4 linked regions of the Homo sapiens genome follow. The protein of the gene in region 1 interacts with the protein of each later gene in a biochemical or structural test. Each region holds a gene or a part of one and is shown on either strand. Other genes may lie near its edges. The genes, in order: POMC, MC3R, MC1R and MC4R.

Region 1 (8,804 bases):
AATAGACCAAGAGCCCAGAGGATGGAACCAAGAGCCCAGAGGATGGAACCAAGAGCTAAGGAGATTCATTCCGGGCAGTGGAACTGCCTTCTGAAGGAACTGGTCACGTGGTCACACGTGCCAGGCCAGATTTCAGAATTTCCTTTTTTCTCTTTTCTCTATTTCTTTCTTTCTTTCCTTTTTTTTTTTTTTTTGACAGAGGCTTGCTCTGTTGCCCAAGCTGGAGTGCAATGGCCTCACTGCAACCTCCGCCTCCCAGGCTTAAGCGATTCTCCTGCCTCAGCCTCCCAAATTGCTGGGATTACAGGTGCAAGCCACCATGTCTGGCTAATTTTTGTATTTTTAGTAGAGATGGGGTTTCACCATGTTGATCAGGCTGGTCTCGAACTCCTGACCTTGCGATCTGCCCGCCTTGGCCTCCCAAAGTGCTGGGATTACAGGCATGAGCCACCACGCCTGGCCCTTTCTGCCATCTTTATCCTTGATCCAACATTACCCTCCACCCACAATCACCATTCAGTTCATAGAGTTTTGTTTTGTTTTGTTTTGTTTTGAAACAGAGTCTCGCTCTTGTTGCCCAGGCTGGAGTGCAGTGGCATGATCTTGGCTCACTGTAACCTCTGACTTCCGGATTCAAGCAATTCTCCTGCCTCAGCTTCCTGAGTAGCTAGGACTACAGACATGCGCCACCATGCCTGGCTAATCTTTGTACTTTTAGTAGAGACGGGATTTCACCATGTTGGCCACAGTGGTCTGGAACTCCTGACCTCAGGTGATCCGCCTGCCTCGGCCTCCCAAAGTGCTGGGATTACAGGCGTGAGCCACTGTGCCCGGCTGAGTTGTGCTGTTTTTATGCCAGGATCAAATGGAGAAATGCACAAAAATAGTGAGGAGATTTAAAAAGCATACTTTTCTCAGTAACTAATAGAATAAGACGACAAATAGCAAGGATATAGGTAGAGAAAGGATATAGAATATTTGAGAATATACAGTCACAGAATACAGTGCAGTGAGACACTTCTTTTGGAGTGCACAGGAAGCCCTAATCAAAATGAGCCCTATGTTTATCTGTTAAGCAAGCCTCAAAAAATTTCGAAGGTCTGAAATCAAACAGAGCATATTCTCTGACTACAAGGGAATTAAGCAAAAAATTAGTTTAAAAACATGACTGGAAAATCCCCAAGGTTTAGAAGTTTTTCTTTTTTTTCTAAGTTGGTAATATGAATTGGAAGGGTTAGAGGTTAAGCAGAATATATTTGAATAACCTATAGGTCAAAGAAGACATCTCAATGAAAATAAAAAGATATTTTGAACAAATGGTAATTGAAATATGACATATCAAAAGTTGTGGGATGCATATAAAGCTGTACTTAGAAAGAAAATATAGCCATAAATACATATGTAAAAAAAGAATAAAGGAGCTGGGCACAGTGGCATGCATCTATAGTCCCAGCTACTAGAGAGACTGAAGTGGGAGGATCACTGGAGCCCAAGAGTTGAAGATGAGTCAAGGCAATATTAAAAAAAAAAAAAAAAAAAAGGAAAAAAATGGTTCAATATCAATTATCTAAGTAAAAGTATTTATTTAATGTCCAACTCATGAGTATAGGAAAAGAATAGCTAATTAAACCCAAAGATGTAGAAGGCACGATATAATAAGAGTAAAAATTTCAGAAATATAAAAAAGTATACATATAGTACAGAAAATTAACAGAACCAAAATGGATTATTAAAAAGACTAATAAAATGGATAACACCCTAAGAAAACTAATCAAGAGGCCAGGCACAGTGGCTCACGCCTGTAATCCCAGCACTTTGGGAGGCTGAGGCCGGCAGATCACCTGAGGTCAGGAGTTTGAGACCAGCCTGGCCAATATGGAGAAACCTCATCTCTACTAAAAATACAAAAAATAAGCCAGATGTGGTGGCACATCCCTGTAATCCCAGCTACTTGGGAGGCTGAGGCAGGAGAATTGCTTGAACCCGGGAGGCGGAGGTTGCAGTAAGCCGAGATCATGCCATTGCACTCCAGCCTGGGCAATAAGAGTGAAAGTCTGTCTCAAAAAGAAAAAAGAAAATGAATCAAGAAAAAAGAGAACACAAATAACCAATATCAGAGATGAAAAGGGCCAAAACCACAGATCCCAGATGCTTAAAATATATAATAAACAATTTTAAGCCAATAAATTAAAGAATTTAGATGAAATAGACAAATTCCTAGAAATACATATCTGACTCAAACTGACACATGAAGAAGTAGACAATTGAAATAGTGCCACTTAAGTAATTGAATTTGTAATGGTTTAAAACATTTTTCCTTCTTTTTTCCAGCTCCAGCTGAAAGGATTGATTCTGTAATTAAAAACTTCAATGAACAAACAATCTTAAAGATTTAGATGGCATCACTGGTGAATCATCCCAAACATTTAAGGACGAGATAACACCATTATACGCAAATTATTCTACTTAATTATAAAAAGGGGGAGGGAAGATGGATTTCCAACTTGTTTTATGAGAACAGCATAATTTTTTGATACTCAAATTAGACAAGAATTCCACAAGAAAGGAAAATTACAGGCCCATCTCATGAACATCAATGCAAATGTCTTAAATAAAATATTAGCAAATTGAGTCCAGTGCTTTCTGTATAAGGATAATACATCATAATCAAATTGGGTTTAATCTAAGAAGCCATGGTAGGTTTAACACCAAAAAATCAACAATGCAATAATTCACCACATTACTAGAATAAAGGTGAAAAATTATGTCATGTCAGACAATCAAAGGCACCTGTTCTAGGCTTTCAAAGAGGAGCTAGTGGTACAAGGATGCAAGGGCAGTGGTGACTCCTTTCTAGTGGCATTAGCTGAAGTGAGAATGGCAGCGTCCCATCCTGGGGACAGAAGTGACGTCTATGTCAGACGCCTGTGGTCTTGACATGCCCCTTGTGGCCCCTTGTGGTCTGTTTTTTTTTTCTCCACTGGATGTGATTTTGGCCATGGTTCCAGCCACACTGTGTCCCTGCCCATTTTTAGATCCTGGTCCCCCAACCTGCCCAGTGATTTTTTTTTTTTTTTAGATGGAGTCTTGCTGTGTCGCCAGGCTGGAGTGCAGTGGCGCGATCTCGGCTCACCGCAACCTCCGCCTCCCAGGTTCAAGCGATTCTCCTGCCTCAGCCACCCGAGTAGCTGGGACTACAGGTGTGCGCCACCACGCCCGGCTAATTTTTGTATTTTTAGTAGAGACGGGGTTTCGCCATCTTGGCCAGGAATGTCTCCATCTCTTGACCTCGTGATCTGCCCAACTCAGCCTCCCAGAGTGCTGGGATTACAGGCGTGAGCCACTGTGCCCCGCCTACCCAGTGATTCTAAATGCAGTTCAATGGCCTTTCAGTTCATGGAGGCCAAAGCAGGTTCTGCTGCATTAAATTAAGAAACTGGGCTGGGTGTGGTGGCTAACACCTGTAATCCCAGCACTTCAGGATACTGATGTGGATTACTTGAGCCCAGGAGCTTGAGACCAGCCTAGGCAACATAGTGAAACCCTGTCTCTACCAAAAACAAAAACAAAAACAAAACAAAAAACCAAAACCCAAAATTAGCTGGGCATGGTGGCATGCATCTGTGGTTCCAGGTACTCAGGAGGCTGAAGCATGAGGATCACTTGAGCCCAGGAGGTGGAGGCTGCAGTGAGCAGTGTTCACACTGCTGCATTCCAGCCTGGGCAACAGAGTGAGACCCTAATTCAAAAACAAACAAACAGAATGAGAGAGAGAGAGAAGAAAAGAAAGAAGGAACCCAGTTAAAGAAGTTGGGTCCATTTGGATTTTTCCTGGTTTGTTTTATCTGCTGCCACCAGCAGCCTCCTGAAGTTACAAAAATAACACAAAGTAAAATAAGGCAAAACCACCATCTGCTTGAAAGAGTTTACAAACCTGATGGTGGTCGTGGGGTGGATGGAAGATTAAAAAAATGGGGACAGAAGTGAATTAGTGCAAGCCACTTGCACTGACAAGATGGGGATGGACTTCTGTGGAAGGCAGAGGAGGTCATGCCTCATGCCCCTGGTAGGAAAAGTGGCCAAAGAGGGCTTCAGAGAACAGGGGCTGATGGATGGGCTACATCTTGATGTGAGTCAAGCTCCTGGATGGCTGGAGAGAGGAAGGATGTTCTAGTTGGGGGAACAGCTTGGACAATGGAGACCCAAGAAAGCCATGTTCTAGCAGTGTGAATGTTGTGGATGCTGAAGTGCCAGGATGCAAGGTGGAGAACTGGGAAATGGCCCTGGAAAGGGGCCAAAGCCGGGTGATGAAGCACCTTGTCTACTGTGACGGAGCTTGGATCTCTCTTGTGGTCCAAAGGGAAAGGATTGCTGAATGTAAAGCCAATGTCACCAGAAAAGCTGAATCCACAAGAGAGTCCTGGAGTCCAAAAGAGCATCTCATGGGGAATCAGGAAAGTTCTGGCATTTGGCAGATTAAGCAAGTGTCTTGATTTGAAGTCCAGTTTAGTCCCAATACTCCCTCCCACACCCACCACATCGCACAATTTGGTTTTGTTTATTTACTCCAGGTTAAGGTAGAGTCTCTTAGCTTGGTTTGAGTGCTGTACTCTTCTCTCTGGTCTGATATTTGGAACTAAAGCCAAGCCAGAACTCCAGGGCCAAGGGGGATGTTGAAAATTGTCTGAGTCCCCAGACCACCCTGCCAGCTCATGGCAAAGGGAGGGATCAGAGGCCACAGGGAAAGCACTTCAGCTGCTCTTCACAGCATCACCCTCTCCCCATTTAATGGTTTAGGTTAACAGGACTTTTTCCTTGAGGCTTGGGACACGGAAGGGAGCCTCCCCTAAACCAGGCCCTTGGAGAGCAGGCCCCAGGGGAGCAGTGCAACTCACCTTCACACCCACAAGACGGCTCCTGACTTCTGCTCCCTCCTCCCCTCCCCAAAGTGGAACAGAGAGAATATGATTCCCCACGACTTCCACATCACAGTTTCCAAACAATGGGGAAATCGGAGGCCTCCCCGTGTGCAGACGGTGATATTTACCGCCAAATGCGAACCAGGCAGATGCCAGCCCCAGCACGCACGCAGGTAACTTCACCCTCGCCTCAACGACCTCAGAGGCTGCCCGGCCTGCCCCACACGGGGGTGCTAAGCCTCCCGCCCGTTCTAAGCGGAGACCCAACGCCATCCATAATTAAGTTCTTCCTGAGGGCGAGCGGCCAGGTGCGCCTTCGGCAGGACAGTGCTAATTCCAGCCCCTTTCCAGCGCGTCTCCCCGCGCTCGTCCCCCGTCTGGAAGCCCCCCTCCCACGCCCCGCGGCCCCCCTTCCCCTGGCCCGGGGAGCTGCTCCTTGTGCTGCCGGGAAGGTCAAAGTCCCGCGCCCACCAGGAGAGCTCGGCAAGTATATAAGGACAGAGGAGCGCGGGACCAAGCGGCGGCGAAGGAGGGGAAGAAGAGCCGCGACCGAGAGAGGCCGCCGAGCGTCCCCGCCCTCAGAGAGCAGCCTCCCGAGACAGGTAAGGGCGCAGCGTGGGGGACCCGTGCTCTTTCCCCGGGATCCCCTGTCCCCGTCCTCGCGATGCAGTCGGCCGGCTCCGGCTCCGAAGGCGGACCTGGGCGCCTCTGGCTCTCCGCGGTCCCGAGTTCTCGACAAACTTTCTGCGCCGACTGCGGCATGAGAAGCCGCCAGTAGCTGAGCTGGAGGGCCCACGTCCGGCCCCTGGGCGGACGGCCGCGAAGCTGCAGGCGCTGTCTCCAGGGAGCCGGCGGCCTCCTCTCCCCCAGGGGCTCGCGGCGGTCCGGAGGCTCCGAGAGCTTGCTAGGAGGTCTTGGGACAACCCGGTCTTTTTTTTTTTTTTTGAGACGGAGTTTCGCTCTTGTTGCCCATGCTGGAGAGCAAAGGGGTGATCTCTGCTCACCGCAACCTTCGCCTCCCGGGTTCAAGCGATTCTCCTGCTTCAGCCTCCCGAGTAGCTGGGATTACAGGCATGCGCCACCACGCCCGGCTAATTTTTGTATTTTTAGTAGAGACGGAGTTTCTCCATGTTGGTCAGGCTGGTCTCAAACTCCCGACAACAGGTGATCCGCCCGCCTTGGCCCCCCAAAGTTCTGGCATTACAGGCGCGAGCCACCGCCCCCGGCCAGCCCGGTCTTTTAGTATCTCTTGCTCCCAGTTTCCAGGATAGGTGTCACATCTTGAAAGTCAAATTCCATACACGCTATCGCAAATTAATGTTGGAAACGGGGCAGCAGAGAAAAGGATAAAAGTCATAATGAACGCCCTGCCTTCCGGATTTTTTCGGATTCAGACCCCTGAATCCTTGTTTCCTTGCCCACCTTAGCGCACCCGAGGTGGCCGCGCTATGATAATTACATGATAACTGGGTCAATTACAATGCAGAATAGTTGGGTCTCTTCTCTCCAAGACCTAGCTGGGGTTAAAAACAGGTGGCCGGGGCGGGAGCTGTCCTAGATCCTGAAACGCACTGTCTAGTTTCGGATGCCCTCAACAGAACCGGGGTGGACGGTTTATGGCGCAGATCCTGGGTTGAGGGCACGGGCAGCCATTTGGAATGATCAAGGCTCAGGTAAGGGGCGTTTCCAGCGAAGGAGAGACAGTCCACTTGGCATTTGGATTCCCCAAATTCTTCATGTTTAAATGGGGCAGGGAGGGTTCTTACAGAATGGCTGGAAGGAGCCAAGGAAAATAAAAGTGTGTGTGGATTTTTTTTGTGTGTGTGTCAGTTTATAAACTCTGCACAGATTATGGCCACTTTAATGACTTACTGTTCCTTTGATGCTTTTGTTATAGGACTCGATGCATGTATGTCATGGTGTAAGGACAAAACTCGGCCCCTGTGCTCCTCTAATCTTTACAAAAGGTCATGGCCAGCGTGCAGTTTTACAGTAACAAGCAAAATGATTTGTTGAGCTCATAGAGAGCCCCTCACACCTATGAAGTTCTAATAAGTGTAGTTCTACTATAAAGTTAATCTCAGGATGAGCAAATTTCAAGTTTCTATTTTTCCAGAGCTTTCCATTTTTGGATTATAATACTTTCCCTACTTAAAAAAGCACAACATTTGATATTTCCCCAATAATTTGTTGCTTTAAAAATGACACAAAAGGTACTATTTGTTCATTGTAGAGAACTGAAAATACACATAAGCAAATACACATACACATAAGCAAAATATACAATACAAACACAAGACCATCTTTCAGGGAAGAATCTGAAGTTTTAGCAATAGCAGCCATCTAACCAGTTTAGCAACAGAATATAAGCTCTGAGAGGGTGGGAGTGAATATGTTACCACATTGTACAACACAGCACATAGGGCATAAGGAGGGGAAATGCTCTCTGGGGCTTTCCAGGAAGGCCTGAAGTCATTGCTTCTAGCAAATGGAAATCACTCCAGAGTAGTTATCTTTGACAAGAATTGAAATATAATTGAGGGAACTATCAGACCTGTAAGATTTTGTTTTTTCCTTTACTAATATGTTACTTTACATTTGCATTTGGTGACATACGTAACTACCATTTTTCTGTGACTGTAACATCTGGGCATTTTTCAGAGCTAAATGTGCTATGGTCAACTTGGAGCTTTAATCTAATTGCCTGGTCCACCAAGTTCTGGCTGTGTACTTGAATAGATCACTGGCAGGGTACAATGGGAACAGCCTGTCCCTTGGAGCCAGGAGAGGACACCAAGGTTGACCAAAGCTCGTTCAGTTGCCCCTTTAGCCGAAGCGCACCTGGGCCAGTCACTGGCTGCCAGTGCCATCTAATGGCTGCTCTGAAAATGCTCAGCCTTGCCCGGCAACCCTTCAGAAGCTAGCACCGTGCAGGCCCAGCGCCTGGGGAATAGGGCGAGGGTGGGGTAGAGAGAAGGAAGTGGCCTCCTGAAGTAGAAATCAGCGCTTCAGAGGACTTTCACTTCCAAAGCCTCCCCTATATAAAAAAGATTTGGCCCACGCCTCCCCAAATGAGAGATTTATTTTAGGCAAACTTATTTTAAAATGCCAGCGTTCATTAGGAGTGACAAGACACTTAGTCATCCACGCTTTAATGTGAATTACTTTTCTCATCTAATTACATTTCTTTCTAGCAGCTGGCTGAGAAGATCTTCTGAAATCCAAAATGATTGTAGGGTTGGCGGTGAGCTGATCTCCGGCCTCGAGGTGGCTTCAGGGGGCCCACCTGGTTAAGGGAAATTTGGCAGTGCGAGGGTAGTGCTGGAGAGAGGGGTGGGTACAGGGGGCTAGGGGCACCATGGATGCCCCCTCCTTACTGTCCCCTGGTGTCTTGACCTCAGCTTCTGCCCACAGGCACTTGCTGGATTCTCCAAAAGTATCTGCAGTGGCTGTTCCACCAGGAGGTAATTCCCTTCTGGTCTCTTTCCCCTCCACATCTGCATCCTCTTCAAATCCTGCCATTTCAGACCACATTTGAGAGCTCTAGAGAACAAGACATCTGACACGTGACGTGTCCAGAAGATGAGCCAGATTTCAAAGAACTGAGATCTGCTTTAAAAACGAAGCTCTCCAAAGTTACTGGAGTCTGGGTAATAGTGATCACCAGAGTAATTTGTGTGCAGGACATCAAATCAGGCTGCTCGAAATGCTGCCTAAATTGGCCAGTGGTTTTATTTGCTTTTCTGTCAACCTAATATTCATAGGAAATAGAGTTTCAGAGGAATGATAGGATCCTGGTGGAATAAAAAGGGAAAAGACCATCTTGAGCAGGAGTTTCAGGGTCCTCCGTTTTTCCCAAGTTACTTTCACTCCTGAGATCTTGCA
Region 2 (6,384 bases), on another chromosome or scaffold:
TCCTGGGAAACAGGTCTGAGGGCTTAGAGAGAATGAGATGGATACGGAGCAAAAGCCAATTATAAGACACATTATCAAGCAGTTGCAGTAGGTGATGGAGGTTCAGGGGATATCTGGGAAGCATACACAGCATCTGCCATTGTCCACCTGCAGGATGGGGGAGCTGAAGAATGTATCTATTGCCTCTGGCCCTCATTAGTTGAGCGTTGCCCCTGGGGTCATTTACTCCCCCCTCATTTCCAGGTTGAACTTTGTCAGATGAGGAATGCCACACACACACACACCAGGGAAGACTCTGGGGCAGAATGTGTTCGTCACCCTTAAAGTGGCACCCTGGCAGTGTAAGTTGAATCTGAGCTCCCACGGAACTGGGGGAGCTGTCCAGCAAACGGCTGTTGAAATCAGAGGTAAGCTGGGTGCAGGGACACAGGCATCAGCAGCATCTGCCCCTCATGAAAAGTTCATATTTATAATAAAATCTAATCGTTGTGTTCTAACATGACTGCTGGCCAAACTGTCCCCCTTTTCGTGGCATGGATGTGACCTCTAATTATGCAATATTCTGCATGTCATTTTTAAAACAGCTTTGTTGAGATAGCGTCAATATACCATACAATTCACCTAAAGTGGACAATTCAATGGATTTTTAGTGTATTTTAGTATTTTCACTAATGACTAATCATATTGAGTCTTTTTTCATGTGCTTGTTGGACATGTGATATCTTCCTCGGTGAAATGTCTATTCAAATCCTTTGCTTCCAATCATTAAATTGGGCAATATGTCTTTTTGTTATAATATTAAATTGTAAATGTTCTCTATGTATTCCAGATACATGTCCCTTATCAGATATCTGATTTGTAATTACTTTCTCCCATTCTTTGTGTTGTCTTCTCATTTTTGTGGCATCTTTTAAAACACAAAAGTTGTTAATTTTGAGGAAGTCCAATTTACTTTTTTTTTTTTTTTTTTGAGACAGTGTCTCGTTCGCTCTGTTGCCCAGGCTGGAGTGCAGTGGTGCAATCTCAGCTCACTACAACCTCTGATACCTGGGTTCAAGCAATTCTCTTGTCTCAGCCACTCGAGTAGCTGGGATTATAGGCGTGCACCACCACACCTGGCTAATTTTTGTATTATTAGTAGAGGAGACAGGGTTTTGCCATGTTGGCCAGGCTGGTCTTAAACTCCTGACCTCAGGTGATCCACCTGCCTCAGCCTCCCAAAGTGCTAGGATTACAGGCATGAGCCACCATGCCTGGCCCACTTTTTTTTTCTCTTGTTGCTTGTGCTTTTGAGAGTGGGGAAGGAGTACTGAACCCTGTCAGCTTGTCAGCAAGGAGAAAGGGTGGTAAATTAGTGTATGAAATTTAAGAAAAGCTGTAAAAAATAGTTGACATTTAAGCTGGATCTTGAAGAATAAGGAGGGTATACCAGTCACAAAATTGAGGAAGAGCTTTTCAGGCAAAGAGACCACCTGGGTTCATTATCTCCTAGAATAAGAATCTCCTTGTTACATTTATTATAACTGATTCAAAACAGACACCCCCACATATGCCAACAACATACGGTAAACACTGACAGAGACTGTCATGTCCTACAATTGTTATTAATAAAGCCAATTCATTCATGCAAGATTCAGTTAAAACGTAATGCTGCATCTGTGCAACTCCCCCAGGAAAGTGGGAAGTAGTGTTTGGAGAAGACCAAATAAACACTCATGAGTGATGATGATACCTCTGAGGACACAGATTTTAAGTACTAGGTCCCAGCTGCTCTCTTTGAAGGATGCACACGACCAGAGAATGAAAGCAGGAAAAGGTGGTCAGTGCTCAGCACGTGCCAAGCACAGAGCAGGAAAAGACCTAGTAGATAATGAATGGTCCCTGCCTTATAGTCTAGCTTTACATGTATGACTCATGCCCTTGAAACCACAGACTGGATGTGACCCTGAGGGTAAGAGAAGTTCCCAAAAGGATTAAGAATGTGTTTTTTTCCAACCTAGAAGAATGGTGGCTTGGCATCAGAAATTAAGTCGTTCTGTTGAAAATAAACAGAAGTGGAAATGTATATTCAGGGCAACTTAAACTCATGCTCTTGACAAAATATTTTTTTAAAAAAAGCAAATAAACAAAAGTATTTCTCATGCCCCTCAGTTCATAGACAGAAACTCATACCAACAGGCTTTTTTTTTATTTTAGTAAGAACTGCCAAATGGTGAAACTATTCACAAACACTAGAAATGCATGAGAGTGTCCTCCCGATATTCTTACCTGAATTTTGCATCTTTTTATCTCTTGTCAATCTAGCTGGGAAAACGATATTAAAATCTCATTTTGACTGGCATTTCCCCAACTTCCTAGATGGCTTCACATCTTTTCATGTTTATTAACCATTTGCATCTTCTCTTCAGTAAATTATTATTTATATCCTTTGCCCAATTTTCTTAGGGGTAATTTATCTTTTTCTAGTTAATGTGAAAGTAGTCTTTGTATGTAAGAGATAGTAACTTTACCTATAGCAAATATTTTCATTCTGTTTTTCTTTTAACTTAGTTCAGGGTGTTTTTCCATACTAAATTTTGGATTGCTCATCTTGCTTAAGATCTTTCCACCCCAAGGATCCTAAGTTTTCTTCTATTTCCATATGCATATTTTTAATATTTCTCACACCTACACACACATACATAGTTACATGGAGAGATGGATCATTAATTCACCTAGAATGTGCGTGTGTGTGTGTGTGTGTGTGTGTGTGTGTGTGTGTAGGGATGAGAAGACTCAGTGTTTTCTGAGTTCATATGATCTACATGGGGAATCAGATCTAACATGGACCAAGTGTTAAACCATACTTCCAAGAACAACACTACATTAGTAGGCCACCTGCTAACTTCTGCCTTTCACATTTTCCAGCTTAAAACATCTCCATCCTCCCCATTATGTAAGAAAGAAGTACAGGTGTTTCTGACTGCTCCCTCTCCCATGATCCCATAACCCATCAGTTCTGAAGCTGCATTATCCAACCTTCTGAATCTCTCTGACCACCCTCCAAGTCTTCCAAGTCCCCATGGCCACTCCCTTGCTCCAGGCCACCATCATCTCACCCTGGGTCTTTGCAACACCCTCTGCCCCGGACTCCCTGGCCTACATGCTCAGTCTGTCTAATTCATTCTCCACCCTGCAACCAGGAATATTTCTAAAATGCAGACCCCATCTCATTCCTGCCCTACCTATGTTTCTTCCACAGTCCCCATTGCTGTCAAGGTACTGTCCAAATTCTCACATCTGGCTGAGGCTGTCCTTCAGGATTCAGGCACCTCTCAACTTTTTAAGAAACTGTGCAGCCTCATTTCTCAGATTGTGTCTCCTATTTCCATGCTCTGACCAGAGCAGACTACTTTCAGCACTTTCAAAAGCCCAAGATTCTTTTTCAGTGGAGCTCAACTGTGACTATGCCCCAGCTCACCTGTCAAAAATTGCAAACACACTTGTTCAGGTCTTACACCTGGGTGATTCTGACTCCGCGGGTCAAATGGGATCTCCACATCCACAATCTGTGATGACTTCTATGGCCAGGGTGCTCTCTGCCTCCAGGCTGCAGACGTGTGATTCCCTCTGCCTGGAGTCCTCTTCTACCTCCTCCAGCTCCAGCCCCCACCCCACCACCCACCCCAAACTGGATATGACCTCTTCCTCCTTGAAGTCAAAGCATAGGTGCTCCTTCCTCCAGGAACTTTGACAGTCCGGGTTAGGGCTCTTCCTCTTTGCATCCCTGGTTTCCTGGACTTTCCTGATTCAAGCATTTATTGATTCCTCTTCTTCCACCCCAGACTCTGAGTTCGGGGAAGCCTGAGATAGTGGCTGTTGTCTTGCTCACCACTGTATTTCCTGCACTCAGCAGAGACCTGACACATAGTAGGCGCTCAATAAATGTTTGCTAAACAACAACAACAAATGAATGAACTAACAAATAAACAAACAAATGAACAGATGAGTGGATGCCTGTGGCAGTTTCCATGACAAACACAAAGGGCTAAGCCAAGCCAGCAAGCAGACAGCCGTGCGGCCTGCAGAGGGCACTAGTCTGCTTCTTAATCTCCCTGCAGAATCCTCAGGGCCAGGTACCTGCTGTCAGTCAGAGAGGTGCCCGATGCTCAGTGGTCATTCTGCTGCGCTGAAGATTAAGTAGGAGTTGTTTGCCCTTGGCCAATATGAAAAACCTGAGTGTTCTCCCTTCACTTCTAGCGACAAGTAACACATCCCCTGTCTTGCCATGAAAAGAGCTGTAACTGTAGCAGCCGGTGGCAGGTTTTCTGTTCCCAGGTGGGGAAGTGAGGAGAGACAAACAGAGGGGTGAGAGGGAGACAGAAGGAAGACAGCTGGTAAGAGACCCTATGGTGTATTTTTTCTATGTAAACAAGATAAAAACTGCTCCTCCTGGAACAGCAAAGTTCTCCCTATGTCTCCAAGCTACAAACTTGCATGCTAGCTACTAACTAGCTACTCTCCCTCTCTCTCTCTCTTCCCCCTTCGCTCTTTCTCTCTGTGTGTATGTCTCTCTCTCTCTCTGTCTCTTCCTCCACCCTCTCTCACTATCTGTCTCTCTACCCTCCCCATCCTTTTATTCTAGAGGAGAATAAACTCTAAGGCCAGATTGAATGAGCATCCAAAAGACGTATCTGGAGGGAGATTTTGTCTTTCCTGTGAGCAGCAGCAGCTTCCTACGGACCCTGCTGGAGCCCCAGCTCGGATCAGCCCTTCTGACAGCAATGAATGCTTCGTGCTGCCTGCCCTCTGTTCAGCCAACACTGCCTAATGGCTCGGAGCACCTCCAAGCCCCTTTCTTCAGCAACCAGAGCAGCAGCGCCTTCTGTGAGCAGGTCTTCATCAAGCCCGAGGTTTTCCTGTCTCTGGGCATCGTCAGTCTGCTGGAAAACATCCTGGTTATCCTGGCCGTGGTCAGGAACGGCAACCTGCACTCCCCGATGTACTTCTTTCTCTGCAGCCTGGCGGTGGCCGACATGCTGGTAAGTGTGTCCAATGCCCTGGAGACCATCATGATCGCCATCGTCCACAGCGACTACCTGACCTTCGAGGACCAGTTTATCCAGCACATGGACAACATCTTCGACTCCATGATCTGCATCTCCCTGGTGGCCTCCATCTGCAACCTCCTGGCCATCGCCGTCGACAGGTACGTCACCATCTTTTACGCGCTCCGCTACCACAGCATCATGACCGTGAGGAAGGCCCTCACCTTGATCGTGGCCATCTGGGTCTGCTGCGGCGTCTGTGGCGTGGTGTTCATCGTCTACTCGGAGAGCAAAATGGTCATTGTGTGCCTCATCACCATGTTCTTCGCCATGATGCTCCTCATGGGCACCCTCTACGTGCACATGTTCCTCTTTGCGCGGCTGCACGTCAAGCGCATAGCAGCACTGCCACCTGCCGACGGGGTGGCCCCACAGCAACACTCATGCATGAAGGGGGCAGTCACCATCACCATTCTCCTGGGCGTGTTCATCTTCTGCTGGGCCCCCTTCTTCCTCCACCTGGTCCTCATCATCACCTGCCCCACCAACCCCTACTGCATCTGCTACACTGCCCACTTCAACACCTACCTGGTCCTCATCATGTGCAACTCCGTCATCGACCCACTCATCTACGCTTTCCGGAGCCTGGAATTGCGCAACACCTTTAGGGAGATTCTCTGTGGCTGCAACGGCATGAACTTGGGATAGGATGCAGGGCCATGGAAATGATCATCAGTCGGGTCACTTTTGACTTTCCATCCACGTGAGGTGTTTAGAAAGAAAAATATATATACTTAGAAAATATAAAAATGTGTTAACAGCCATGATTGTACTTGTCGTTTGTTTTTAAGTTTACAAAGCCTTTTAAAGGGGAAAATTGGTGAACAACAGATTCTCTGAAAGGATTCCAAGATGGGTAAGTCACAAACTCTGATTTCCCAAATAGTCACTGGGAGAAATCAGCGAAGGCTTCTCTGCATGCTCTCTGCACTCATTTCCAAACACCCAGGGTGTGCGACGCCTGTCTGCTCATCTGCTCCACACCCACGTCTTCATGCTCCAGGCCAGACCAGACTGAAGGATTCTCATGAACAATAAGGGTGGTTCAGATCTCTTGCAAGCAAACCTGTTACAGCTACGACCTCCTGCTGCCAGCTACACGGAGAGATAGCTTTGCACTTATAACTCCGTAGGAGACTGAGTTCTACTCTATTATTCTATTTACAGTTAGACAATTGTCTCTTTGTGAAAGGAGCAATGCTATGCCGTTTTCCCCTTTTCTTACCCCCATATCCCTTCAGTTGTCCCCACCCCCAAAGGTAGCATGAGGATGTAACCCACTTCTATTTTTCTGTTG
Region 3 (8,116 bases), on another chromosome or scaffold:
TGTGGGTGGGTGCGCATTTGTGTGTGCCTGTGTGTGTGCGCATGTGGTGTGGGTGCACGTGTGTGCACGTGTGTGGGTAAACATTGTGTGTGCGCATACGTGTGTGGGTAAACATTTGTATGTGCACGCGTGTGTGGGTAAACGTGTGTGCGCACGTATGTATGTGTGTACATTTGTATGTGTGTACATTTGTATGCATGTGTGCCTGTGTGTGTGTGCCTGTGTGTGTGGGTGCACATTTGTGTGTGTGTGTGTGCCTGTGTGTGTGTGTGCACGTATGTATGTGTGCACACTTGTATGCATGTGTGCCTGTGTGTGTGGGTGCACATTTGTGTGTGTGTGCCTGTGTGTGTGGGTGCACATTTGTGTGTGTGGGTGCACATTTGTGTGTGTGTGCGCCTGTGTGGGTGCACATTTGTGTGTGTGTGTGCCTGTGTGTGTGCCTGTGTGTGTGGGTGCCTGTGTGTGTGGGGCACATTTGTGTGTGTGTGTGCCTGTGTGTGGGTGCACATTTGTGTGTGTGCCTCTGTGTGTGTGCCTGTGTGTGGGGGTGCACATTTGTGTGTGCGCCTGTGTGTGGGGGTGCACATTTGTGTGTGCGCCTGTGTGTGTGGGTGCACATTTGTGTGTGTGTGCGCCTGTGTGTGTGGGTGCCTGTGTGTGTGTGGGGCACATTTGTGTGTGTGTGTGTGCCTGTGTGTGGGTGCACATTTGTGTGTGTGCCTGTGTGTGTGTGCCTGTGTGTGGGGGTGCACATTTGTGTGTGTGTGTGCCTGTGTGTGGGGGTGCACATTTGTGTGTGTGTGTGCCTGTGTGTGTGGGTGCACATTTGTGTGTGTGTGTGCCTGTGTGTGTGGGTGCACATTTGTGTGTGTGTGCCTGTGTGTGTGGGTGCACATTTGTGTGTGTGTGTGCCTGTGTGTGTGGGTGCACATTTGTGTGTGTGCCTGTGTGTGGGTGCACATTTGTGTGTGTGTGCCTGTGTGTGTGTGCCTGTGTGTGTGGGTGCACATTTGTGTGTGTGTGTGCCTGTGTGTGTGGGTGCACATTTGTGTGTGTGTGTGTGCCTGTGTGTGTGTTGCAGGCCCTGGATGCCAGACACTGAATAAACGCAGGAAGACGTCTGTCTTCATTCTCCTCGTGGGTCGCTGGTCCAGAAACACCTGGATGGAAAGTGCTCTGCAGGAACGGTGCCTCTGCCTGTGGCGGGGACCCTGGTGAGCGGATGGGCCAGCCCCACGTGTCTTCCGGCCACTCAGCATGCAGTGTTTCCAGGGGCACTAAGAGACCAAAATCGAGATATGATTAGCTGTAGGATGTCATCTAATCACAGATCATCCCGAGGCTAATTTATCTCCCCCATGACCATAACACATCAAAAAGTTGACTTTTTGCAGCTCGGCTGTGCCTCATCTTCCCACGAAGCCCCGACAGGCACATCCAGTGAGGAACCACAGTGGGAGTCCTGTGGCAGGGTCACCCCACTTCCGATGCCCTCCAGCTGCATCTTGGCACGAAAAAGGCTGCCCAGTTCTCATGCCCTTTCAAGTCCCGGGCTGGGGGGTAGCAGTGGAGGCTGGGGTTAACCGCCGTCCGTCTCAAAGGCCTCATTGTGGAGCTGCAAACACGAACGTCCTTGAAATGTGAGGGGACAGTGCTCTGGGGCAGGGGCTGCTCACTGGTTCATGGCCAGAGGTGAGCGGGCTCTGGGTCTGGGTCTGTGAGGTGCTGTGGACGTCGGGGGTGCTCCTGGGGCAGGGACACAGCCACGGCCCTCACACCAGTGGAGCCGTCTTCCTTCCCGAGGCAGAGGCTTGGCCTTCTCACACCTTGGGACCCTTCTCTCCCCTGTGCTCATGCTGGAAGCACAGCGTGAGGGGGCAAAGGTCATGGGAGGCAAAAGGCTGGGCTGAGGCCGAGGCTCTGTGGCTGTGGCCGGATACCAGGTCCTGTGGTGGTGTGGGCAGGGCGCGCTCTCTCCTCTGAGCAGCCTGGGGCTGCGTGTGTGAACAGAAACAGGCCTGCCGATTTGAAGATGGTTTGACCAAGTCTCCCAAAGCTGAAGAGAGGTCCCTGCCCATGTCCCCCGGGTGGCAATCCACAGACGCACCTGTGTCCATCAGACGGTATCGTTGATAGGGAGTCTGAAGCCACCCAGACGTGGTCTGTTCACGCCGTGGACACCACGGTCTGAGGCAGACGGTTACAGCCACCGGCATAGGCGAATCTCAGCCAGAGAGAGTGAACTGGGACACCATTCACGTGATGGGCCAGATGGGCTGGCAGCGGCTCGCTGGAGCCGTCCGGGTGGGAACGCTGTGTCTGTTGGTCTGGTGCTGCTTATGTGGCTGGTTCAGGTCTGTCATCCGTCAACCTGCATATTTATCACTGGTGCATTTTCATGTATGTTGTACCTCAATTAAAACATTTTAGGGCCGGGCGCGGTGGCTCACGCCTGTAATCCCAGCACTGTGGGAGGCGGAGGCGGGAGGATCATGAGGTCAGGAGATCAAGACCGTCCTGGCCAACATGGTGAAACCCCATCTCTACTAAAAAAAATACAAAAATTTGCCGGGTGTGGCGGCACGCGCCTGTAGTTCCAGCTACTCAGGAGGCTGAGGTATGAGAATTACTTGAACCCAGTAGGCAGAGGCTACCGTGAGCCAAGATCATGCCACTGCACTCCAGCCTGGGTGACAGTGAGACTTCGTCTCAAAAAAAAAAAAAAAAAAATTAAAGCAGATGGGGTGTGGGGGCTCATCCCTGTAATCTCAGCATTTTGGGAGGCTGAGGCGGACCGATCACCTGAGGTCAGGAGTTCAAGACCAGCCTGGTCAACATGGTGAAACCTCATCTCTACAAAAAATACAAAAAATAGCCAGGTGTGGTAGTGGGTGCCGTAGTCCCAGCTAGTTGGGAGGCTGAGGCATAAGTATTGCTTGAATCCAGAAGGTGGAGGTTGCAGTGAGCCAAGAATGCACCACTACACTCCAGCCTGCGCGACAGAGTGAAACTGTCTCAAAATAAATAAATACATAAAAATTATATGTATATATATATATATATATATTTTTTTTTTTTTGAGACTGTATCTCTGTTTCCCAGGCTGGAGTGCAGTGGTGTGATCTCGGCTCACTGCAACCTCCGCCTCCTGGGTTCAAGCAATTCTGCCTCAGCCTCCCAAGTAGCTGGGATTATAGGCGTGCGCCACCACGCCTGGCTGATTTTTGTATTTTTAGTAGAGATGGAGTTTCACCATATTACCCAAGCTGGTCTTGAACTCCTGACCTCATGATCCGCCTGCCTCAGCCTCCCAAAGTGCTGAGATTATAGGGGTGAGCCACTGTGCCCGGCAATAATAATTTTTTTTTTTTTTGAGACAGAGTTTTGCTCTTGTTGCCCAGGCTGGAGTGCAATGGTGCAATCTCGGCTCACGGCAACCTCCGCCTCTCATGTTCAAGCTATTATCCTGACTCAGCTGGGATTACAGGCACCCACCACCACACCTGGCTGATTTTGGTATTTTTAGTAGAGACGGGGTTTCTCCATGTCGGCCAGGCTGGTCTCGAACTCCTGACCTCAGGTGATCCACCCGCCTTGGGCTCCCAAAGTGCTGGGATTACAGCCCTGAGCCACCATGGCTGACAATAATAAAAAATTTTAAAGCAAAACTAAAGATTTATAAATTGTAAAATGCGGTTGTAACAAGTATTTACTGTACCAGTAAATATGAAAAATATTAATGTCCTCACACACATGGAGGTGGCTTGTGAGTGGTGTGAGCATTTCATGGTCAGAGTTTGGCAGTTGGGCGAGAGACAGGATGGATTTTAACTCGAACATCGCAGACACAAAACTGAAAACCCTGATGCGGTGCCTGCACCGTTGCCTCCTTTCCTGCAGCTGTAAATGGGACGAGTAATTCCATCCCCCTCCCGCTTCCACCCTTCAGCACAGACGCAGTCTTCAGCAAGGAAGTGCTGGGAACGCCCTGGAGTGAACCCAGGAAGATGCCTGCAGTGGGTGCCAGGGCCCCTCTCCACCGTCCCTGCTGGGCTTCGGGGCCACGCCCGACTGCTGTGAACGGCCTGCGGAGCACCACGTGCGACGGCTGGAGGCGAGAGGTCTGCCTTTGATGTGGCTGTTGGTGCAGGGCCTGTGGTGCCTTCCGCAGCGGAAATGGCGCGCCGCCCGGGGAGGGCGGGAGCAGCGTCCCGGGTGCCCCTGTGAGGATGAGCGACGAGATGACTGGAGGGTCCCTGAAGACCTCACTAGGGTGCCCCCAGCCGGTCCGCTCCCAGGAAGCGACACCCCCACAGCCCCAGGGCTGCAGCTGAGGGGGTCGCCACTCTGGCTGGGCGAGGCTGGGCCCTTGGGGGCAGGCGCCAGAGTGGCCTCAGGCTCTACAAGATGCCTGAAAACACCAACCTCTCCAGGGCTCACTAGCATTGGACGCTTTCACGCTCTGCCCTGGCCGGAAGCCCCCTCACCCCGCGCGATGTGCAAACTCCTGCAGGGCTCACTCAGTTTCCAGAACTTTAATTATTGGAAAGTTCTCCCTGGTCCAGCCCCCAAATCTGCCGTGAACGTTGACAGCTGAGTTGCTGCTCCATGCGTGCTTTGGCTGAGAGCAGAGGGGACCCCTGTCCTCCCTGAGCTGCTGACGAGGGGAGGGGTGAAGGGTGGGGCCTCTGGAGAGGGCAGGTCCCGGGGAAGCTCCGGACTCCTAGAGGGGCGGCCAGGTGGGGGCCCTGGTGACCAGGACAGACTGTGGTGTTTTTTAACGTAAAGGAGATCCGCGGTGTGAGGGACCCCCTGGGTCCTGCACGCCGCCTGGTGGCAGGCCGGGCCATGGTGGGTGCTCACGCCCCCGGCATGTGGCCGCCCTCAGTGGGAGGGGCTCTGAGAACGACTTTTTAAAACGCAGAGAAAAGCTCCATTCTTCCCAGGACCTCAGCGCAGCCCTGGCCCAGGAAGGCAGGAGACAGAGGCCAGGACGGTCCAGAGGTGTCGAAATGTCCTGGGGACCTGAGCAGCAGCCACCAGGGAAGAGGCAGGGAGGGAGCTGAGGACCAGGCTTGGTTGTGAGAATCCCTGAGCCCAGGCGGTAGATGCCAGGAGGTGTCTGGACTGGCTGGGCCATGCCTGGGCTGACCTGTCCAGCCAGGGAGAGGGTGTGAGGGCAGATCTGGGGGTGCCCAGATGGAAGGAGGCAGGCATGGGGGACACCCAAGGCCCCCTGGCAGCACCATGAACTAAGCAGGACACCTGGAGGGGAAGAACTGTGGGGACCTGGAGGCCTCCAACGACTCCTTCCTGCTTCCTGGACAGGACTATGGCTGTGCAGGGATCCCAGAGAAGACTTCTGGGCTCCCTCAACTCCACCCCCACAGCCATCCCCCAGCTGGGGCTGGCTGCCAACCAGACAGGAGCCCGGTGCCTGGAGGTGTCCATCTCTGACGGGCTCTTCCTCAGCCTGGGGCTGGTGAGCTTGGTGGAGAACGCGCTGGTGGTGGCCACCATCGCCAAGAACCGGAACCTGCACTCACCCATGTACTGCTTCATCTGCTGCCTGGCCTTGTCGGACCTGCTGGTGAGCGGGAGCAACGTGCTGGAGACGGCCGTCATCCTCCTGCTGGAGGCCGGTGCACTGGTGGCCCGGGCTGCGGTGCTGCAGCAGCTGGACAATGTCATTGACGTGATCACCTGCAGCTCCATGCTGTCCAGCCTCTGCTTCCTGGGCGCCATCGCCGTGGACCGCTACATCTCCATCTTCTACGCACTGCGCTACCACAGCATCGTGACCCTGCCGCGGGCGCGGCGAGCCGTTGCGGCCATCTGGGTGGCCAGTGTCGTCTTCAGCACGCTCTTCATCGCCTACTACGACCACGTGGCCGTCCTGCTGTGCCTCGTGGTCTTCTTCCTGGCTATGCTGGTGCTCATGGCCGTGCTGTACGTCCACATGCTGGCCCGGGCCTGCCAGCACGCCCAGGGCATCGCCCGGCTCCACAAGAGGCAGCGCCCGGTCCACCAGGGCTTTGGCCTTAAAGGCGCTGTCACCCTCACCATCCTGCTGGGCATTTTCTTCCTCTGCTGGGGCCCCTTCTTCCTGCATCTCACACTCATCGTCCTCTGCCCCGAGCACCCCACGTGCGGCTGCATCTTCAAGAACTTCAACCTCTTTCTCGCCCTCATCATCTGCAATGCCATCATCGACCCCCTCATCTACGCCTTCCACAGCCAGGAGCTCCGCAGGACGCTCAAGGAGGTGCTGACATGCTCCTGGTGAGCGCGGTGCACGCGGCTTTAAGTGTGCTGGGCAGAGGGAGGTGGTGATATTGTGTGGTCTGGTTCCTGTGTGACCCTGGGCAGTTCCTTACCTCCCTGGTCCCCGTTTGTCAAAGAGGATGGACTAAATGATCTCTGAAAGTGTTGAAGCGCGGACCCTTCTGGGTCCAGGGAGGGGTCCCTGCAAAACTCCAGGCAGGACTTCTCACCAGCAGTCGTGGGGAACGGAGGAGGACATGGGGAGGTTGTGGGGCCTCAGGCTCCGGGCACCAGGGGCCAACCTCAGGCTCCTAAAGAGACATTTTCCGCCCACTCCTGGGACACTCCGTCTGCTCCAATGACTGAGCAGCATCCACCCCACCCCATCTTTGCTGCCAGCTCTCAGGACCGTGCCCTCGTCAGCTGGGATGTGAAGTCTCTGGGTGGAAGTGTGTGCCAAGAGCTACTCCCACAGCAGCCCCAGGAGAAGGGGCTTTGTGACCAGAAAGCTTCATCCACAGCCTTGCAGCGGCTCCTGCAAAAGGAGGTGAAATCCCTGCCTCAGGCCAAGGGACCAGGTTTGCAGGAGCCCCCCTAGTGGTATGGGGCTGAGCCCTCCTGAGGGCCGGTTCTAAGGCTCAGACTGGGCACTGGGGCCTCAGCCTGCTTTCCTGCAGCAGTCGCCCAAGCAGACAGCCCTGGCAAATGCCTGACTCAGTGACCAGTGCCTGTGAGCATGGGGCCAGGAAAGTCTGGTAATAAATGTGACTCAGCATCACCCACCTTAGCCCCTTCCAGAAAGTGCTTGAAGTTTGCGGGTGGAGGGATGGGGGAGGGGAAGGTGGGCAGGGGTGAGAGTCGAGAGGGAAGAAAGGAGTCCCGGAAAACGTGGCTGCCTCCCCAGGTGAGGAAGCCACAGCCCCAGAGGCCCCAAATGCCTGGGGAGTGTGGAGGTCCCAACCAGGCTTGCGCTGACCCTGCTTCTCGGTTTTCTCTCCGTGCTGACAAACCCCAGCCTAGAGGAAGGACGAGCAGGTGCAGCAGGGCCCCAGTCCCCTCCACTCTTGACGCTGTCCTAGCTGCAGAAGAGGCGGGTTCCCAGCCTTCCCTGTGACCACATGTGACCTCAGCCGGGACACATCCCTTTGCTGGCCCTGGCCCTGAGTCCCTCCAGCCATGATGAGCCGTGAATGGGACCATCCCTGTCCACTCTGAGATGCCTGGAAGGGGGCTCAGTGCAGGTGGGCTGGGGGCTGGGTCTGCTGTCTGCCCAGCACTGCCATTCTGGGAGTAGGCAGGTGGGGAAGGGGTCGGGGGTGGAGGGTCTGTGTTCAGCCAGTCCTGGGAAATGCTTGATGTGAGGCTTCTGAAGATGGCAGTGAGGCAGAGGCCCAGCCGGCGGAGAAGTCCCTGGGAGTGAGTACCTGGGGATGAACTATGCTGCCTGGTGCTGGGGAGCAGTGGCGCCCCTGGGCCATCCCTCTGCTGAAACCTGGGCGTCTCGCTGAAGAGACCACCTCCATTTCCTCTGCAGAGACTGAGCACTCAGTCAGCCCCCTTCCTGGGACAGGCTCAATGGAGGCTGCAGGGCCATCAGCCGACTCCTACGCAGGCTCAGTCAGCAGCCCCCTGGCCAGCCCCACCCCTGACTGCCGGCCTCAGAACTGGGAGCTGCTTCCTGGCAGGGCCCGCCTCTGCTGGGAGACCGGACGGTGAGTCAGCCTTAAGCCCGGCACCAGACCCCTCTGAGGATGGAGCAGGAGCTGGCTGCCCTGAGGCTGCAAAACTTCTTCCCTCGTGGAGACAGGGAGGCACCTCAGACACTCACCCCGGACTCCCTTGAACAGGG
Region 4 (7,534 bases), on another chromosome or scaffold:
GACTTCAGTGTGATCCTTTTGTTCATAAATAAAACATTTTTATGGGAAAAAAATTTTAAGGGAGTAATTAATTTTGTTCTTTATTACTAATTTCACCTATTATTTCTAAATTAACATTTTTATTTTATTCAAGTTTTTAACCAGTTCTTTTATTCTGTTTTTATATGCAATGTTTATATAGGATTTAGAATAAGTATGAAATAACTATTTGATCATTTATTAGATAGTCTGTTAAGGAAGAAAATTGCCATAGATGAATCTAATATAATTTAATCTTTTTTCAGATAAAAGGCAATAGATGGAAGATGAGAGTGGAAATGAGAGCATCAGGATGATTGAAAATTCTCTCATCGGTTAAAACAACTAGAGCACTTGCAAAGCTTGTCAGGATTAACACTTTCAGAACTCTGAAAATTGACCAATACTTCAAATAACCCAAGGTAAATTTATTCAGGAAAATGGCTAAATTGAAGTAAGAAGAGTGAAACTTGCAGCATTTTAACTAGACATATTTTCCCATTCCAAACTCACCAGCTCTGCAGTAGCTTTGACAACTAACATCCTATAAAAATGTTTAAAAGCATCAGTCTAGCAGGAAATGGAGGGTGCAAAATGGGGTTGGATCTTCTTCAAAGCTCCATTCCCGTTACCAGAGATGCCATCATTATTTTGACCTATCTGTTGGTTTCCTGACAAACTCTACTTGCAGGGGTTTCTTATTTGACCTAACTCAGAACTCACCCACGGAGAACAGTCTTTTCCTCAGGGACATTTGTTGGAAACAATCAGAACAACTGCTTAACATCATGGCTGCCTAAGGCAATGGATAGAAGTTGGCGAAAAAAAATCAGCTATTCAAAAAGCCTAAAAGAAAAAGCTCAAGAAAATGAGATGTCCATAGGAATTTATTAAAACTCTAATATATTCCTGAGAATCTAGAAAGCCGTACAAACATGCAGGACTGTGCTTATGATCAGAAACAACAACAACAACAACAAAAACTAAGAAGGTCTTGACTTCTCACCTCTGGCTGACCTTTGTGGCTGTGTGTAAGCAGAAGGTAAGGCCAAGGCAGAGTTGCCCAGTGCCTGGCTAAGTGTCAAAGGCATGCCCATCATGGACACAGAGTCTCTCAGCAATGACTAGGGGAGATGTTAGTTCCTGACATCTAAGGAAATCTCTGTCCACTTATCAGCTGACCAATAAGCTATCAGAGCAGAGACCTCATTGATCATACAAGACAAAGAATACAGACATTCTAGAATTATTTAAGAAAAATTACTGAACAACAACAATAACAAACAACAACAACAACAAACCCTGGGTAAGAGAGAAAATCTGATTTTCAGGGTTGCTGGATTGTGTTATTCAAAATTCCCCGTTTCTAACAAAAATGAATAAATAAAATGCAGGCAAATAAATAAGAAAATATAGCCCATACACATTAGGAAAAGGAAGTCAGCAGAAATTATTCCTGGGGAAGTCTAGATGTTGCACTTAATATATAAAGCCTTTAAATCAGTTCAAACATGTTCAAAGGATTAGCGAAAACTATACGTAAAAATTAAAGGAAATTATGAGAACAATTTCTCATCAAACAGAAGATATCAAAATATAAGTGTAAACTTTAATAACCATGGGTTAGGCAATCCTTTTTTAAATATGATCCCAAAAGCTCAGGCAACCAAAAAAATTTGATAAATTTAACATCATCGTAATTAAAAGGTTTGTGGTTTCAAGAACACTATCAATAATTGAAATGGCAAAAGTACCCAGAATATGTAAAGAGCCACTACAACTCAATAATTTAAAAAAATCCAATTAAAAATGAGCAAAGGATTTGAATAGGCATTTCTCCAAAGATTATTACACAAGTAACTGGTAAGGATGTAAAATCATCTTCAGTATCATTAGGCATTAGGGAAATGAAAATCAAAAGTATAATGAGAGTTCACTTCATATCCTTATGATGGCTAAAATAAAAAAGATGGACAATAGCAAGTGCTAGCAAGAATGTGAAGAGATTTGAACCCTCATACATTGCTAACTGGAAATGTCAAATGGTGCAGCCACTTCAGAAAACAGTTTGGCAGTTCCTCAAAACAAGAAACAGAGTTATCATATGATTCAGCAATTCCATTCCTGGTTGTGTATCCAAAAGAATTGAAATCATCTGTCACATAAGAATTTGTCCATAAATATTCCTAGCAGCATAATTCGTGATAGCCAAAACTGGAAATAACCCAAATGTTCCTCAACTGATGAATACATTTAAAAATATAATGTATACAGCCAGGTGCAGTGGTTCATGCCTGTAATCCCAGCACTTTGGGAGGCCGAGGCGGGCGGATCATGAGGTCAGGAGATCGAGACCACGGTGAAACCCCGTCTCTACTAAAAATACAAAAAATTAGCAAGGTGCGGTGGCGGGCACCTGTAGTCCCAGCTACTTGGGAGGCTGAGGCAGGAGAATGGCGTGAACCCAGGAGGCGGAGCTTGCAGTGAGCTGAGATTGCACCACTGCACTCCAGCCTGGGTGACAGAGCGAGACTCCGTCTCAAAAAAAAAAAAAAAAAAAATATATATATATATAAATGTATACATACAATGGAATATTACTCAGCCATAAAAACAAATCAAAACTGGGCACAGTGGCTCATGCCTGTAATCTCAGCACTTGGAGAAACCGAGATGGGAATATCGTTTGAGCCCAAGAGTTTGAGACCAGCCTGGACAACATAATGAGATTCAATCTCTACAAAATTATTTTTTAAAAGCTAGCTGGGTGTGGAGGTACATTTAGTTCCAGCTACTCAGGAGGCTGAAGTAGGAGGATCACTTGAACCTAGTGAGCCATGATCATGCCACTGCACTCCAGCCTGGGTGACAGAGCAAGATCCTGTTTTAATTTTTTAAAAATCAAATTCTGATTCACATTATAGTGTAAGCAAACCTTGAAAATATTATGCTACATGAAAACAGTGAGCCACAAAAGGCCACATATTGCATTATTTCAATCATATAAAATGTCTAAAATAGGCACATTGATAGAGACAGAAAGTAGATTAGCAGTTCCTAGAGGATAAGGAAAGGGTAAAATGGGGAGCAACTGCTAATGGGATAATGAAAATGTTTTAGAAATAGAAAGTGATGATTATGGCACAACTCTGTGAATATATTCCCCCAAAAATCCATTTAATTACTAAAGAGGTGATTTTTTTTGGTATGTGAATTATATGTCAATTTTTAAAAAGAGAAAAAATAAGGCAAGAGGAAGGTAAGATTATTTCCAGCTCATGATGTTCAGGAAAGCCCATTCCAGCATTTTACAATATACAGATGATTAGGCATTCAGAAATACAGGGGAAGGGAGTTGGAGGTGTGAGTTCTGCTCTGTGCAATCATTCAAGAGACAGGCTCCTTTCATGATATGGTCCTGCCACCTGTAACATGAGATTTCAAAGACAGGAGAGAAAACTTGTGTAAAATTATGAAAGAGCTAATGCGATGAGCCCCACTGTCAACATGCCATTAGCTAGAATTTAGTCATAAGGTCCTACCCAATTCCAAAGGTGGATGGAAGACGTTAATTTATCTCAATGCTCAGGAACAATACTTAGTATTGTCTCTGTCACAAAAGGAAAGAGGATACATTCCCAACCTAAGTAACTGAGATTCAGAATTAACCCTGAAATAAGCAGCTACAAACTATAGAGCACTAAAACCAAAAATAATCATAGAAGAAAAGAATATACAAAATTTTGTATAATCTGTTGTTCAGTTAATTTGGAAAGTAACTTTGCTGCCATCTTTCAAACCACCTTAAGCAAAATATTCAGAAACTTCAATAACTAACTAGTATCACCAGTCTTGGCTTGATAAGTAAAGTTACTAGGTATTTGTCGGTTCAACTTACGATACGTTAAACTCTGGAGGTTTAAAAAAAAGTTGCTTAAAAAAAAAAAACAGAATGCAGCTTATTATTTTCCTGAGTTCAGTGTAAGCATAGTTACATTAATGCCGTATGAGTTTAAAATATTGTAAATAAAAAGCACCTTTTTTCAGCTATAACACAAACTCCTCAATAGAGAAATATGGGATATTAGTGCATTAAAATCAACCCCTTTTGAACCCATTCATAATTTATAGCTACCTACATAGTTCTTCCAGCCATACCATGTCTATCTGTATCATTAAATATCCTCTCTGTTTTTCAGGTATTTTAACTGAACCACTACTGGCTGGGTTCTTAATAAAAACAAAAAATTAAGAAGGTAAATAAATTCAGTATCCTAGCCAAAAAGCAGAGTATCTGTTTCAGGAACATAAGACAGTATACTTTCCATTTCATTTTACACACACACATGATGTCTTTTACATAAGAATGAACCTGGCTGCCTGAAGATAGCTTGTTTTGATATCACAGAATGGCCTCTAGGGATCAAGTTGTTTCCCTTGAAAACTTAAAAAGGGAAATTCAGTCTCTTATCCGGCTTGCTTCTCGACTTCAGACTTCAGGAGCTTCTGCATCTGAATCTGTGTCACCCTGCAATTTGTGTCTCTGAAACATAATCCTGTCTCACAGACTCCCATTGCATTGGGATTGGTCAGAAGGAAGCAGAGGAGGAGCCACCGTGAACATGTTTTTTTTCTCTCCACACATCATAAAAATCAGCAGCTGGCGCCTACAGCCCCTAACACTCAAAGCAACGCTCAGGCTGGAAACAGAAGCTTCCGAGAGGCAGCCGATGTGAGCATGTGCGCACAGATTCGTCTCCCAATGGCATGGCAGCTTCAAGGAAAATTATTTTGAACAGACTTGAATGCATAAGATTAAAGTTAAAGCAGAAGTGAGAACAAGAAAGCAAAGAGCAGACTCTTTCAACTGAGAATGAATATTTTGAAGCCCAAGATTTTAAAGTGATGATGATTAGAGTCGTACCTAAAAGAGACTAAAAACTCCATGTCAAGCTCTGGACTTGTGACATTTACTCACAGCAGGCATGGCAATTTTAGCCTCACAACTTTCAGACAGATAAAGACTTGGAGGAAATAACTGAGACGACTCCCTGACCCAGGAGGTTAAATCAATTCAGGGGGACACTGGAATTCTCCTGCCAGCATGGTGAACTCCACCCACCGTGGGATGCACACTTCTCTGCACCTCTGGAACCGCAGCAGTTACAGACTGCACAGCAATGCCAGTGAGTCCCTTGGAAAAGGCTACTCTGATGGAGGGTGCTACGAGCAACTTTTTGTCTCTCCTGAGGTGTTTGTGACTCTGGGTGTCATCAGCTTGTTGGAGAATATCTTAGTGATTGTGGCAATAGCCAAGAACAAGAATCTGCATTCACCCATGTACTTTTTCATCTGCAGCTTGGCTGTGGCTGATATGCTGGTGAGCGTTTCAAATGGATCAGAAACCATTGTCATCACCCTATTAAACAGTACAGATACGGATGCACAGAGTTTCACAGTGAATATTGATAATGTCATTGACTCGGTGATCTGTAGCTCCTTGCTTGCATCCATTTGCAGCCTGCTTTCAATTGCAGTGGACAGGTACTTTACTATCTTCTATGCTCTCCAGTACCATAACATTATGACAGTTAAGCGGGTTGGGATCATCATAAGTTGTATCTGGGCAGCTTGCACGGTTTCAGGCATTTTGTTCATCATTTACTCAGATAGTAGTGCTGTCATCATCTGCCTCATCACCATGTTCTTCACCATGCTGGCTCTCATGGCTTCTCTCTATGTCCACATGTTCCTGATGGCCAGGCTTCACATTAAGAGGATTGCTGTCCTCCCCGGCACTGGTGCCATCCGCCAAGGTGCCAATATGAAGGGAGCGATTACCTTGACCATCCTGATTGGCGTCTTTGTTGTCTGCTGGGCCCCATTCTTCCTCCACTTAATATTCTACATCTCTTGTCCTCAGAATCCATATTGTGTGTGCTTCATGTCTCACTTTAACTTGTATCTCATACTGATCATGTGTAATTCAATCATCGATCCTCTGATTTATGCACTCCGGAGTCAAGAACTGAGGAAAACCTTCAAAGAGATCATCTGTTGCTATCCCCTGGGAGGCCTTTGTGACTTGTCTAGCAGATATTAAATGGGGACAGAGCACGCAATATAGGAACATGCATAAGAGACTTTTTCACTCTTACCCTACCTGAATATTGTACTTCTGCAACAGCTTTCTCTTCCGTGTAGGGTACTGGTTGAGAATATCCATTGTGTAAATTTAAGCCTATGATTTTTAATGAGAAAAAATGCCCAGTCTCTGTATTATTTCCAATGTCATGCTACTTTTTTGGCCATAAAATATGAATCTATGTTATAGGTTGTAGGCACTGTGGATTTACAAAAAGAAAAGTCCTTATTAAAAGCTTAACAATGTCTCCTTCGTGTTATTCATAAGCATTGGACACTTTGCGTGCTTTCGTAACATAGAAATCAGAGCCTCATTAAACATATTCTAATAAATGCTTTATTATATTATATTATCCACCATTGAAATGTAGAGAGTTCATTCTAGCAGTTAAGGGAAAATATTTAAAGAATAGATGTATAATCATTTTTAAAAATATCATCACTGAAATTTCAAGTAATTTAATTAAAGGTTTGTTCATCCTCCCTGTGCAGAAGTAGAAATGAAGCTCCTCTAGAGAGAAAAACAGGTGCTGAAAAAAGAGAGATGCTGAGTTAGAAAACTATGTGTACTTCTCAGACACAGAAAGATTCATCTCCCTTAGCAAACAGCCTGATATTTCACACAGGCAATTCGGTTTGGGGTGGGTGGGAAAAGGCAGCTATAGGGATGAAAGTGTCCTGGAAAACCTAAGTTGCCATGTCAAGCTAAATTTCCTGTTACCAAATTATCCCTAAACAATATTAATAAAACAGAGAATGGGGATTTATGCCCCCTTTAAACAAGGATTCAGGGTCTGCTGAAGTGTCCAGAAAAGGTAATATTGTACTGAGAGATTTAGCTTCCTGTTTCTAGAGAAGTACAGGACTGACATCGAATTCTTTCTCATTTCACATGAAAATGACTTGCTGTTTACTTATTGCTGATTTTTTGAACTGGAGTACAAATGTTGATTATCAAGGATTTTAAACTTCAAAACCAAATTCATAGCAGAAGTGTTTTCTGGCAATATTTGTAAATAACTAAAATAAAGGTATCTGTGATGCTGGTACATTTTAAGCAGGAAGGGAGGCACCTACCAAACCCCAGAGGATGTCATGCAATAAACTAGCCTTCCACAGCCACTTCTTGAAGAGTAAAATGTTTTGCTCCAAAATAATCCTACAGATTTGGCCACTGAGCAATAAAATTTGTACTGTACTTTCTAATCTGTGTGTAATTTAAAATAAAGCAAAAGAATATATTAGGTTGAGGATTACCAGTAAACTATCTTAGGATTTACAGGGTCTTCAAATGCTCATGGGCAGAAGTCATATGCAAAGGTACTCCTTAACTCAAATCTAAATGTTTTACACTGATTATAAGACCCAAGAA

The links.
Region 2: the proteins of POMC (region 1) and MC3R form a complex in vitro, tested with the Homo sapiens proteins (one study listed by BioGRID).
Region 3: the proteins of POMC (region 1) and MC1R form a complex in vitro, tested with the Homo sapiens proteins (one study listed by BioGRID).
Region 4: the proteins of POMC (region 1) and MC4R form a complex in vitro, tested with the Homo sapiens proteins (2 studies listed by BioGRID).

The regions. Positions count from the first base shown.
Region 1 is NC_000002.12:25,165,215-25,174,018, reverse strand, and holds the start of POMC (pro-opiomelanocortin preproprotein), read left to right. Parts: upstream 1-5,438; 5' UTR 5,439-5,521; intron 5,522-8,333; exon of another isoform or gene 8,334-8,383; intron 8,384-8,804.
Region 2 is NC_000020.11:56,244,081-56,250,464, forward strand, and holds MC3R (melanocortin receptor 3), read left to right. Parts: upstream 1-4,651; 5' UTR 4,652-4,763; coding exon 4,764-5,735; downstream 5,736-6,384. UniProt on the Homo sapiens protein: Receptor for MSH (alpha, beta and gamma) and ACTH. This receptor is mediated by G proteins which activate adenylate cyclase.
Region 3 is NC_000016.10:89,913,924-89,922,039, forward strand, and holds MC1R (melanocyte-stimulating hormone receptor), read left to right. Parts: upstream 1-5,032; 5' UTR 5,033-5,335; coding exon 5,336-6,289; 3' UTR 6,290-7,049; downstream 7,050-8,116. Other genes in the region: guanine nucleotide-binding protein subunit gamma 4-like, read left to right, coding at 178-1,217, 3,953-4,124, 4,928-5,032. UniProt on the Homo sapiens protein: Receptor for MSH (alpha, beta and gamma) and ACTH. The activity of this receptor is mediated by G proteins which activate adenylate cyclase.
Region 4 is NC_000018.10:60,369,938-60,377,471, reverse strand, and holds MC4R (melanocortin receptor 4), read left to right. Parts: upstream 1-4,696; 5' UTR 4,697-5,122; coding exon 5,123-6,121; 3' UTR 6,122-6,410; downstream 6,411-7,534.